2 separate regions of the Homo sapiens genome follow, and region 2 is linked to region 1. Evidence: fine-mapped expression QTL. Tissue or cell type: lung. Region 1 holds a variant in brackets; the other region holds the start of a gene. All regions are shown on one strand. Distances are between the middles of the regions.

Region 1 (2,678 bases):
TTTTTCTACACAGAACAAACCTCTTCCTTGAGTAGCTATCCTCCTAGTGAGTTTCTTGGCCCTCAGCTGTGTTAACTGCCCTAGGACCTGCCCCACCCCTACGCCATCATGGCTGGGAGTCCACCCCTACCCCGCCATTGCTGATTGGACCAGGGATGGGCACCTGACACGGCTGAGCCAATTAGATTCTGTCTGCCAGGAAATTGGAGCAGAGACAAGTCTCTGGTACCAAGTCTAGCTGTGCTCCACAGTGAGAGCCCATGAACCCCCGCTGTTAGCATCCACAGGACTGCCCTGGTCCCTGCCCTTCCTGGGCCTTGGCTCTTCAATTTCCCTTTGTACTGTGACGCACTCTGGCACCCTCCCACTGGATTCCACTTTTTTTTTTTTTGGAGGTGGAGTCTCGCTCTGTCGCCCAGGCTGGAGAGCAGTAGCGCAATGTTGGCTCACTGCAAGCTCCGCCTCCCGGGTTCAAGCACTTCTGCCTCAGCCTCCCAAGTAGCTGGGACTACAGGCGAGGCAGCTGGGACTACAGGCGCATGCCGCCACGCCCGGCTAATTTTTTGTATTTTAGTAGAGACGGGTTTTCGCCGTGTTGCTCAGGCTGGCCTTGAACTCTTGAGCTCAGGTAATACGCCCACCTCGGCCTCCCAAAGTGCTAGGATTACAGGCGTGAGCCACCGCGCCCGGCCTTGGATTCCACTTTTGGCTGAGTTGGCTTCTGTCACTGGCCTCCAAAAGAACCTTCACTGTAGCTGGCTGGTAGAGTGAGATGAGGATAGAGTTAGTGGGTTCAAGGTTGTCCCTGTGGTCTTAAACTGGGCTGTCCCTAAGAAATGGGCTCATCTAGTCAGTTTCCTGAGGAAACCATGAAATGCCAAAGGCTGAGGCTGTTGTTGGAACAGCTGTGGCAGTCGCTGGAGGACCCCTTTTTGCTATGGCCAGAACAGGCTGCTGAAACACAGAAAGTGCCAGTGAGTGAGGGGCAAAGCAGGAAGTGAGCCACTGGGAAGTTGGTGGGGCCTGCACGGGGCATCTTCCTCATCCTTCTTCAAACACAGAGCCCCTCATGGATAGAAGATGCTTAAACCCATTTATGCCTAGTGTTCCATTATTGGAACACTAAGCATGTGGGAGTTATTTATATCCTACTGCTCAAGGGCACCGCCAAGGTCTCATTGCAAAAATTCAAAAAATTGCAACCTCAGGCATAAATGGGTTCTCTTAGGTAGTTCTCGGAGGCATGGGAACCACTGAGTATAAAGTTTGAAGATTTACCTGAAGATTAACCCAAAGGCTGGTGAGGTAGCCAGCCTCCAAGATGGC[C/T]CCAGCAACCCCTACCTCCTGCTAGTTACAACCTTGTGTGGTCTTCTCTCACATTAAATAGGGTTGGCCTGGGTGACCAAGGGAGTACAGCAGGAGTGATAGCGTGTGATTTTCAAGGCTAGGCCATAAAAGAGATTGGTGGCTTCAACCCTGCCATGTTGGAACGCTTCCTCTTGGGGAGGGCAGCCACCATGTTGTGAGGATGTACAAGCAGCCCTGTGGAGAAGCCCATGCGTGAGGAACCAAGGCCGCCTGTCATCAATCAGCACCAACTTGCCAACTATGTGAGCTGCCTTGGGAGCAGATCCTCCAGCCCCAGTCAGGCCTTCAGGAGTCGGTCATCCCAGCTGACATCTTTTTTTTTTTTTGAGATGGACTCTTGCTGTCACCCAGGCTGGAGTGTAATGGCGCGATCTTGGCTCACTGCAACCTCTGCCTCCTGGGTTCAAATAATTCTCCTGCCTCAGCCTCCTGAGTAGCTGGAATTACAGGTGCGTGCCACCATGCCTGGCTAATTTTTGTATTTTTAGTTGAGAAGGTGTTTCACCATGTTGTCCAGGCTGGTCTCAAACTCCTGACCTCATATGATCTGCCCGCCTTGGCCTCCCAAAGTGCTGGGATTACAGGCGTGAGCCACCACGCCCAGTCCCAGCTGACATCTTGACCACAACTTTAAGAGAGACCCTGAATCAGGGCCACCCAGCTAAGCTGCTCCTGGATTCCTGACCCTCAGAAGCTCAGTGAGAGGATAAATGTATACAAATGTATATTGGTTTTGGGGTTTTTGTTGTTGTTGTTGTTGTTGTTGTTGTTGTTGTTGAGACGGAGTTTCACTCTTGTTGCCCAGGCTGGCGTGCAGGGGCACAATCTCGGCTCACTGCAACCTCTGCCTCCCAGGTTCAAATGATTCTCCTGCCTCACCCTCCCGAATAGCTGGAATTACAGGCATGCACCACCACACCCGGCTAATTTTTTGTATTTTTAGTAGAGATGGGGTTTCTCCATGTTGGTCAGGCTGATCTCAAACTCCTGACCTCAGGTGATCCGCCCGCCTTGGCCTCCCAAAGTGGTGGGATTACAGGCGTGAGCCATCATGCCTGGCCAAATGTATATTGTTTTAAGCTGCTAAGTTTGGGGATGATTTGTGCCCTACGAATAGATCTCTAAAATACCTGAGGATAAGAATGTGCTGGGCTTGGAATATCTCCAGAAATCACTCATAAAGGCGGTAATGGAGTGAGGCTGTGTGGCCCAGATTTGCCTCAGTGGGACTTCAGGCACCAAAGGCAGCTGTGCAGAGCCCTCCACCTTCTCCTGTATCTGCCCCTTTGGAAACGGAGGGAGGGAGCCCA
Region 2 (2,678 bases), 330 kb before region 1:
AATTGCTAGCTATATATTGTCAGTTACAGGTGTGGCAGTTGTGAAGTCAGAACTGGCCTGGAGATGATTAAGAGATCTGTTGGCTCAAAAAAAATTTTTTTAATGGGTGCATAGTGGGTGTATATATTTATTGGGATACGTGACCTGTTGGCATTCATTCATTCATTCATTTAAAACAGGGTTTCACTCTGTTGCGCAGGCTGGAGTGCAATGCCATGATCACAGCTCACTACAGCCTCAAATCCCTGGGCTCAAGCAATCCTCCTGCCTCAGCTGTTGGGTTTCAAGTGGGGACTGATGGCAGTGGAATGTCCAGGATGACCCCAGGAGAGTGTGGAACAGGGCTTGGGACTAACCTGGGCCACCATCGATTAAGAGAGGGTTAGGAGAAGCAGATGGGGGAAGGAGGGGAGAGGAGGGGAGGAGGAAGAGGAAGGAGAGGAAGTGCCCCCTAAGGAGCCTGAGGAGAACCAAAAGAGGCTGGTGCCAGGGCAGGAGTGGTAGCCGTGGGGAAGGCTGCGGAGAGGCCCAGTTGGCCTAGTAATGGCGTCACCCCTGACCTGGCCAGAGGGTGTGGTAGGCCAGAGGCAGACACAGCGGATGAGGGGCAGAAGGGAGGCGGGTGGAGGGGTGCAGTGAATGGAGAGGGAGCACCGAAGCTAAGCTTGGGCAGCCAGAGGGCAGGGGCCAGCTAGGGCCCGGCCCAGCGGTCATGGGGCCTGGGTGGAGGGTGTACAAAGCGGGGCCTGCACCGAGCCCTGAAGGCAGGGAAGTGACCTCGTCTCGAATCCAGATTTTTGCCACTGCCTCTCTCCGTGACCTCGAACGAGTCACTCATCTTGTCTGAGCCTCAGTTTCCTCACCTGTGAAGTAAGGATCAAAGCAGTCGGTACTTTCCAGAATTTTCAAGAAGCTGCCCTTGGAGGCACATAGTAACCACGCCAGCCACCAGTCCTGGACCCCACCTGCTTTAGTCCAAGCCCCGCCCCAGACCCCCGAACTCACCTGGCCGCGCACACTAGCCACGCCCCTAACTGGCCCCGCCTTCACCTGGCTCCGCCCCGACCGACGAGCCCCGCCCCACCTGCCGCTCCCACTGGCCACGCCCCCACCTGGCCACGCCCCGGTTGCCCAGGTCTCGCTCCGCACACGCTCAGCCGAGCCCAGTCTGGGAGGGACGCGCCCGGCAGCTGTCCACCGATCCCGGCCACCGCCCCCGGCCACCCCCACCCCGCGAGCCCATGGAGGCTCCGGGACCCCGCGCCTTGCGGACTGCGCTCTGTGGCGGCTGTTGCTGCCTCCTCCTATGTGCCCAGCTGGCTGTGGCTGGTAACTCGCGGCAGGGTCTGGCTAGGGGCTCGACGGGGACGGATGGAGCTTGCACCTCAGCCAGCCGTCTCCCCAGGAGCAGCCTGGGCTTGAGGGGAGGGGGCTTTCCGGCCAAGTGCAGGCCTCCAGGGGTGGGAGAGGGGGCTCCAGCTCTGTGTGGAGCCCTGTGTGTAAATATAGGCCCCAGGTGTGGGGGCCTAGGGAGCTTCAGGTGGTCTGGGGGAGGTGGCTCCAACTGAATCTGGGAACCCCGGGTGTATGCAAAGGGAGGGGCTCTGGGTGAATGTGGGGAGGCTCTAGGTGTGTGTAGACCTCTGCTGTGGAAGCTCCAGGTGTGCGCTGGGGCTTGGGGATCCAGGGGTGAGTGTGAGAGCCCAGATGTGTGCAGAGGGGCGAGGGCCACCGGAGTGTTGGGTGGGAGGGTGGGCGGGTGCCACAGCTTGGCTTCGAGGAATTCTCCCTTCCCACTCCACCGCACTACCAGGTAAAGGAGCTCGAGGCTTTGGGAGGGGAGCCCTGATCCGCCTGAATATCTGGCCGGCGGTCCAAGGGGCCTGCAAACAGCTGGAGGTCTGTGAGCACTGCGTGGAGGGAGACGGAGCGCGCAATCTCTCCAGCTGCGTGTGGGAGCAGTGCCGGCCAGAGGAGCCAGGTATGGAGCTGAGCCCTCCCCAGATTGAGTGCCCCCAGCTCTGAACCCCAAGGCCCTGGCCCCTCTCCCCAAACCTCCCCCCTGCACCTTCTCTCACCAGGACACTGTGTGGCCCAATCTGAGGTGGTCAAGGAAGGTTGCTCCATCTACAACCGCTCAGAGGCATGTCCAGGTAAGGGGGTTCTTGCACCTAAGCCAAGTTGCATGGGTCTCCCCAGCCATAGCCTGCCCCCCAGGAGGAAACAGCCTCTCTCAGGCGGTGGATTTTGCTCACCCATACCTGGGCCCGGTATCAGTTCTGCCTTTAGCTCACTGAGAAGTCCCCTCCTCTCTCTGCCTATTTCCTCATCTGAAAATTAGTACAGGTGTGTGGAGGGGATGGGAGTGTTAGCTCTTCTTCTAGTTTAAGGCATAGCAAGGACTTTGGAAGTTCAGAGGGAATGAGAGGGAGTGCTTCCTGGAGGAGGTGGCATCAGTAATGAGCCTGGAAGGTAGAGATGGAGAGAGAGCACATCTGGTGGAGGGAACTGTGTGGGGCTTGCAAGTATGTTGGATGTCTAGAGTAGGGACAGGGCTGCATCTGAATCGGAAGTTTAGCGGTGAGTGGGGGCTGGGGTCTTGATGGGAGTCAGGGGGTGGGAAGGCTGCTTTGCTATGGATCACCTGTCTCCTCAGCTGCTCACCACCACCCCACCTA

Alleles and levels. Positions count from the first base shown, and alleles are read on the strand shown. Sizes are in standard deviations (SD) of each study's normalised expression.
With allele T in place of C in region 1, the expression in lung of the gene that starts at base 1,148 in region 2 is lower (moderate effect, 0.53 SD a copy in GTEx).

The links. PIP is the estimated chance that this variant, and not a neighbour inherited with it, causes the effect.
Region 2: CD164L2 starts here. The variant in region 1 is fine-mapped to the expression of CD164L2 in lung (GTEx, PIP above 0.99).

What each region holds. Positions count from the first base shown.
Region 1 is chr1:27,050,198-27,052,875 of GRCh38, reverse strand. All of the region lies in intron 5 of LOC101928391 (a long non-coding RNA gene), which reads right to left. Among named protein-coding and RNA genes, the nearest start is that of TENT5B, 39 kb to the right of the region's middle. RefSeq lists enhancers at 1,607-2,422, 2,423-2,678. The variant C/T (reference allele first, on the strand shown) is at 1,327.
Region 2 is chr1:27,381,803-27,384,480 of GRCh38, reverse strand. It overlaps CD164L2 (CD164 molecule like 2), which reads left to right and starts at 1,148. Exons shown (of 6, transcript NM_001330448.1): 1 at 1,148-1,329; 2 at 1,814-1,981; 3 at 2,082-2,153; 4 at 2,657-2,678. The coding sequence starts at 1,242.